Linked DNA regions of Homo sapiens. The protein of the gene in region 2 purifies or fractionates together with the protein of the main gene of each other region. This does not show direct contact. Each region holds a gene or a part of one and is shown on either strand. Other genes may lie near its edges.

Region 1 (3,824 bases), on a different chromosome or scaffold from region 2:
ATCTTTATCTCTTACCAGTTGGGTCTTGGGCATCCTATTCGCCGAGATGTGTCCTTACAAATGAGAAGACAATTACAAGGGCATCTAACATATTTCTTGCCTGTTGGGGGGTTTTTGATTGGCTGGATAAGGGAAGAAAATGCAAACACAGCAATTAACCAAAGTACAGATTGTCAAAGTTTGTTTGTGTTTAAAAAGGAAAGGATTCCATTAAAACTAATGAAATATATTGCTTTTGTAACTTAAGGTTTTATTTTATGATTTTTCTATAAAACATATGAAGTCAAGTATTCATGTTTTGTGGTCCTTCAAGACACAATAATCACTGGCTGACTTTTTTTAGTCTTTTCTAAAGAGAAAAAAATAAAACATCAAAGATAAAATTAATATTTAATTGCAGATTTTGAGAGATCAAAATGTAATATATAAAGCCTAACTATGAAAGAAATATATTTCATCTAAACCAGTGTATGCTTTACCAGTTTATTACTTGAAGCTATAAAAATACTGCTGAAAATTTAGTTGCTCCCCAAAGCTCAATTTTTAAAAAAGGAAAGGTGTTATTCAATATTTTAAACATTCCTAAATTACTATCAACTAAATTGAATAAAATGTCAAACTATTTGTAAACACTTTGGCACAGATGCTAATAATAAATGCATAATCACAAAAGCCCAGAAAAACAATAGTGACATCCTACAGACATAAAATAACTTCAAATAATTTTCCACATAAATAGGGCAAAGTTTACATCTGTAATGAAGTTTAGTACACAATATTTTCATTTTAATGAAAACAAGAATGAATGTAGTTGTGATGTGGATAGATATTGAAAGTATTTATACGTAACTGCCATGCTCAGTCTAGTTTTTGAAAGTAAAAAGCCAAAAGGCATTATATTTAAATTCACCATGAAATTCTCTTAATGGGGTTAGCTTTAAACACAGTGAGGTATCCTATGATGAAAGAGAGACAGAAGAAAAGACAGGAAAAAAGATTACCATATTTGTATCCAGCCCACATATACTTTTAAGTAACATTATTGAAGTACTTCCTTTAGGAATAAAATGTCAAATAACAATTTATATTTTTTCTAATGGAAATCTCCACTTACCGTAGCTTCATTGCAAACTGTGCACTTAACCACATGCTGGTGAAGCTTGCCATCCAAATTGATTAGTGATTGGCACACACGGCAGTTTATTACTGGAATACCACTGGCGTCTGGACTGGCAATGGCTGTATATGGAGGTGGGAGCTCCGCTGAAAAGATATTAGTCACTGAATCAGAGTCTTGGAGAAATTACTATGGCTGGTTTGAGTATAGAGGCAATATAAGTAAAGAAGAAACAATCAAGATTTTCCCACGTTCTTTTATTTATTTTTCAAAGCTAGCCAATTTATCTTACTTTTAGAGCACAAACATCCATGAGACTCTTATCAAGTAAAATAATTCTTAACTCTGATAAAATCTAAATCATGTTTGCCTAGGTCTATCCCAATAACCCAGTTTCCTTTTACTAATCTATACTCAAAATGTCACTCCATTCCTATTAGTAAATTCATACAGTCTCTAACAGGAGAGTGGTAATTTATGCCTACAATAAAAATTTTACACAAGTGATCTGATTCCCAGGAAATAAAAATGGTCGATGAAAGCAAAGTTTTAAAATTGCTTATCCATACATATAAATTATGTAGCTGTCATGCTCTGTCTTTATATTGGAACCAGTATAATGACTGCTGGCTATGACAAGAATAAAACAAGGTGTTGGAGGAAGTCAAGAAGAAACAAAAATGAACCTAAGAAAACTAAACTTCTCAGCATGGAACAAAAATGGGAACCATGCTAATTTCAGACACAAAACAAAAATAAAGTAAATATAACAATTTTTAGTCTCAAAATTTACCTACCATTAAAAATGTAAGAAATGCACCAAAGTGTTTATGAGTAAAAAAATGTAGTATGTGGGATTAAAAACTTCAAAAACCATAACAACAACCACCACAAAAAGAATGGGGAACCAGATGAAACAAGTAGCAAAATGTTGATAACTGATGAATATAATGACATGGAAGGTCATAGTTTCACACTACTTTTGTGTATGTTTGAAAATTCCCATAATACAAAGACACACACACAGTGTTTTTTTTGAGAGTCCTAAGGTTGACTCAGTGAGTGAGTGAAGGGTGGAGGCCCACTTTCAAAATCAAGTATCTACCAGAAGTGTATATTTGTTACAAAAGTCTGAGAAAAGGAATCCTGATATACTACTCTGGAATGGGATTTCTAAAGGAGACTGCCTAACCCCTTTCTGTAACTATCTCAACTACAGGAATAGAAGACTTTTCCAAGGTAAAGTTTTGTCTTGGGACATTTAGAAAGGGCCACACTCTAACATATGATTGAAGCACGAAAGAGAACTGGTATCTCAAGAGGCTTCTGTAACACTATAAAATATAATCACAATAGCTAAGCATAATAAGAGCTATTTTTGAAATAAAGGTTTTCTATCCACTGTATTAGGTCCTAAACTTTGTGATATTTTAAAAAGAATTAGAGCATAAAACATTTTGGTATGTTTAAAATACACATATTTCTACCTGATCCTTGGGTTATAATATAGGATTTTTTTCAGACTGCTAAGGATTAGCAACAAGTGGTATTCGTTCAAATGATTCATAAGACAAATTTCTGCAGCAGCCAAGGCTCTGAAAGAGGCCACTTTGAAATGACGATATGCTTATGTTTCTGGGAGGCTTATAACAGAACACTGCCAAACACTGAAATTCAAAAGAAGCTGTACATGTCTTAAATTATAAAAATAATTTTAAATCCATGAAAAGAATTTGAGCGTGATCCAGAGTGACCTGTAATGTATTAATCAAGAAGAAAAAAACATGTTAAAGAAACAATGAGTCAACAATATACTTAAGGTCTTGCAATTTGCAGATTACTTTGTCAGATCTCAATAAAGACATTATTCTTGGGGAAAGAATATGTACCTCACTAGAAATTCAAGACACACTGCCTGGTATATGATAATGAATATTATTTTAATAATTATTTGCAGTAGCATTATTAACAAAAGTTGCTTCCTCTCTGGCCTTTTCCTTGAGTTGTACAGTAACATTACATAGTTCTCTCGTAATCCCAGGTCTCTATCTTACACAGTATGATAGAAAGGAAACTTAAATGCAAGACAGTTTTATAAAGAAAACAAGGGCATTAGGGGGAGAGGAGGAAGTGACATATTGCTACACTACATAAAAGGACACCAACCCATACACTCCTCAGCTTTGCTCAAAGAAATCTCCTAAGAAAATTTCAGAGGGTGATCTTAACAATCATTAAAAGGGCATTAGAGCCAGTAAAACCCTGTGAATTTTTCTTCTAAGATTTGTACTATATAATTTTTAATCTGCCAAAAAAAAAACGCCTTCAATGACAGAAATATGCTCAAATCTACTCTTTTGGAGGCTTGGGAAGTGGAGGGACATGGACAGAACAAGCAGTGAAGATTATAAATCTAATATAAGAGAGACCATAAGCTCCACGAGGCCAGGGGCACATCTGGTTTGTCCACAGCTACTTCACCAGCGCTTGTCATAATGCCTGGTCTATGATGATGCTTACTAAATGTTTATTCAATGGTTGAATTAATTAATAAATCAGCGAGTCACTAAAATTTATTAGACATATCTATTTGTCTTGGAAAAATAACACCAAGTATTAGGTTGCTGCAAAAGTAACTGCGGTTTTTGCTACGACTTTCAAATAGCAAAAACCGCAATTACTTTTGCACCAACCTAATACATTAACC
Region 2 (3,824 bases):
TAGTAGAGTCAGGGTTTCACCATGCTGGCCAGGCTGGTCTTGAACTGCTGATCTCAGGTCATTGACCTGCCTCGGCCTCCCAGAGTGCTGGGATTACAGGCATGAGCCACCGTGCCCAGCCTCATGTATACATAATTTTTCTCATTCAAAAAATTAGTTAACACACGGAAAAGGCAAAAAAAAAAAAACCAAAAAACAAAAAATAAAAAAACCCTATTACTTTTACACCCAGGTGGTTGACTATTATGAATCAATTTTTCAAGTTAGATATACATGAAATACTATGAAAAAAATCTCCAGAATACATTTTAGAGATTTTTTTGTGACTCTTTGTGTTCTTGGATCATATCAAGGGTACACAGTTAAAGATCATGTTCCAAAGTCACCTGAAATATTTCTTCCCTGTGTGGTTATGTCACCAACTTGATTTATGGTTAGTTTCATGTGTTTCTGTGTTTTCAAAAACTTCTTTTTGATTCAATTGATTTTAATTATGTAAAAAGTTTACCTAGCTTCAGAGTCAAAACCAGAGTTTTTTTTTTACTCCAAAATCAAAATTAGGAAGCAAGGCATATTCAAGGAAATGTAGCTTCTGTCTCTGCCCCCTCCTCTCTCGGTAATCATTCTGATTCGTTTCTGGTTGCTCCTCATACCATTCTCAAAAATGGAGGCAAATATATACAGATATTAATATTGCCTCTTCTTACACAAAAGGTGACAACACACTATGCATGTTTTTGCACTTGGCTTTGTGTGTGCGTGTGTGTGAGACAGGGTTTCACTCTGTCACCCAGGCTGGAGTGCAGTGGCGTGATCATGGCTCACTGCAGCCTCAACCTCCTGGGCCCTGGTGATTCTCCCACCTTAGCCTCCGGAGCAGCTGGGACTACAGGCACGCACCACCATGCCCAACTGATTTTTTTCGTATTTTTTGTAGAGACAGGGTTTTGCCATGTTGCCCAGACTGGGTTTAAGCTCCTGGGCTTAAGCTATCTGCCTACCTTGGCCTCCCAAAGTGCTGGGATTACAAGTGTGAACTACCATGCCCAGCCAGCTTTTTTCTTTAAAAACGGAGTGAGATTGAGTTATCTCTTTTCACCAATTGAAACGGAAAGTTGTTGAACAACATATATGATGGCATTTATGTACACATTTAAAAAACAACTACCAAACATTGCTATAGATTATATATTTCTGTGTATGTATATGCATACAGAAGGTTTTGAAAGGAACACAGCAAACTCATGATAGTGGTGTTATTTCAAGAGAGGGCAGGCAGAGATTAAGGACGATCAAAGCAGACTTTGACTTTCTCTACAATGTTTTAGTTTTTTGCAGGGGTGATAGATCCATATATTTCTTGCATTACTAAACAAAAAACAAAAAACAATGTTTAATGCTAATATAAAAAGCTAAAACAAATAAAGCAAAAAGTGACCTACAGATGACGGACACCCAACCCCCATGACCCCAGGCAGAAGGGAGAGGAGTGGGTGGGAGGGGGCGAGGCCTCCACAAGGTCACCTGTGTGCTGCTGCTGGAGTCGCTGTGCAGGCGGATGTTCTGGCGGCCCGAACTGCAGCTCTGGGAGGACTGAGAAAAGAAAGAGCAGGAGGGAGGGAGGGTGAGGCTGCACCCTGGCCCAGAGCAGGAAGGACTGCTGGGCTGGGAGCCAGAAAGTCTAGTTGCATCTCTATTCCTAACTTGCACAAGTCCTCTCTCAGAGCATCAGTTTCCTAGCTGTAAAATGAAAGGGGGGCACCACTCCCTGCTTCCTGGAGCCTCTTCAGAGACCGCTTTGACCTCTGGGTTCCCACCTCTCACCTCTGCAACTAGAGCACCCCACCTTTAACTGCTCTGTAATTGAGACTTCTGGCCAATATTTCAGTTCAACTCACAGAGTAACTGGTTCTATTAATGGCTCCACTTTTTTTTTTCCCATGATCCCTGTATACATGCTTCTGCCCTATAACCTCATAGTCCTTGCCTACTCTGACACTAGACTTGGCCATGTGGCTTGCTTTTGTCAATGGGATGTTAACAAACTTGACTCAGCAGAGGCTTAGAACACCCTTGTGCATTTCCGCTTTCTCTCTGTGGCATCTGCTTTCACCGTGAGAGCACGTCCAGGTTAACTTGCTGGGCAGTGAGCCACGTGGAGCACAGCTGAGTCACCCCAGGCAAATACGAGAGCCCAACCAAGATAAACAAATGTTTTAGTTGACCAGTTACGGACAGCTGGTGCCAGAATAAGCCTCGCCTAGCCCAGTTAAGAACAGAACTTGCCAGCTGACCCAGAGTTGTGAGCAAAAATAAACGCTGACTGTTGGAAGTCATTGATTTTTGGTGGTTGTTTGTTACACACTGTTATTGTGGCAATTGATGACTGATATCATCACTGCTGAAGAAAATTAACTTTTTTTTGAGAGGGAGTTTCGCTCGTTGCCCGTGCTGGAGTGCAGTGATGCAATCTCGGCTTGCTGCAACTTCCGCCTCCCGGGTTTAAGTGATTCTCCTGCCTCGGCCTCTCAAGTAGCTGGGATTACAGGCGCTCAGCTAATTTTTGTATTTTTAGCAGAGATGGGGTTTCACCATGTTGGCCAAGGCTGGTCTTGAACTCCTGACCTCAGGTGATCCACCCGCCTTGGCCTCCCAAAGTACTGGGATTACAGGCGTGAGCCACCACCCTCAGTCAAGGGTGGTGAGATCCTACTTTTTACTGAGATCCTACTTTGGGCTATTAAACTGGAAGTTCTGGGAGGACAGACCAGTCTGTCTGGGTCACTGGAACATTCCTGATATCCCAGGATATTCCTGATAGTACCTGCACATAGTAGATACTCAATAAGCATTTGTTGAATCAATGAAAGTCAGGCAGTGCGCCAGGCACTTTATATACATTGTCTTGTTTGGACTGTACACGAACCTCCTCTACACCTGATTATTCCCATTTTACAGATGCAGAAAACTGAGGCCCAGAAGAAAAGGTACTGGTAGGGAACCCCAGAACTACTAAATGGTGGGACTAGAGTTTGAATTCAGGTCTGATTCCAAAGTCACCGCACACTCTTAAAGAAAAAGCCAGGGGTGAGACTGTCACCAGGCCCCAGACACCCAGTCTTCACCACTCTTAGAACAGCCCAATGAAGCAGACCCTGACCTTCCCCAGCCCCCGCGCTCCCCGAGGCCAGCCGCCCATCACCTCATTGCTGATGGTTGAGTCCCTGTGCAACATCCGGTGCAGGTGGCTGTCCAAGCTGGCCCCGGATGAGCATTTGGCCAGGGCGGCCGCATGGGACTCCCGCTCCCTCTGCCGCACGATCGCCTCGCAGCCCAGCCACTCAGCCATGGTCTGTGCATAGCAGGCATGAATCTGCTCGTCCACCTGCCAGGGCAGATGCAATGTCACCCGAGGTGTCAACAAAGGGGCGCCTGGGGAGGGCCAGACCAACGTGGAAGAGAGTGGCTCTGATCCATCCAACATTCACGCAGTTAACATCCAGCAGATATTAACTGAGCACCTACTATGCTATGCCTAGCACTGGTTAGGCTCTGAAGACACAAAGGGAGCAAGGCTACTTCTTTCCTTATTTCCCTCCTTCCTTTATTCATTCATGCATACATATATAAATTTCAACTATTCATTGAGTCCTTACTATGTGCTAGATAGTACATAGGCCCTGGGGATACAAAAGTGAGAAGACTGTTTCTATTTTTCTTTCCCTCCCCCCCCTCCGCTTCCTTCCTTCCTTCCTTTCTTTCTTGACAGAGTATGGCTCTGTCACCAGGCTGGAGTGCTGTAGCACAATCTTGACTCACTGCAG

The links.
Region 1: the proteins of SGSM1 (region 2) and PIP4P2 purify together in Homo sapiens (affinity purification with mass spectrometry; one large-scale study listed by BioGRID and IntAct). This does not show direct contact.

What each region holds. Positions count from the first base shown.
Region 1 is NC_000008.11:91,020,142-91,023,965, forward strand, and holds part of PIP4P2 (type 2 phosphatidylinositol 4,5-bisphosphate 4-phosphatase), read right to left. Parts: intron 1,264-3,824; coding exon 1,115-1,263; intron 123-1,114; coding exon 16-122; intron 1-15. UniProt on the Homo sapiens protein: Catalyzes the hydrolysis of phosphatidylinositol-4,5-bisphosphate (PtdIns-4,5-P2) to phosphatidylinositol-4-phosphate (PtdIns-4-P).
Region 2 is NC_000022.11:24,892,992-24,896,815, reverse strand, and holds part of SGSM1 (small G protein signaling modulator 1), read right to left. Parts: intron 3,386-3,824; coding exon 3,203-3,385; intron 1,594-3,202; coding exon 1,525-1,593; intron 1-1,524. UniProt on the Homo sapiens protein: Interacts with numerous Rab family members, functioning as Rab effector for some, and as GTPase activator for others. Promotes GTP hydrolysis by RAB34 and RAB36.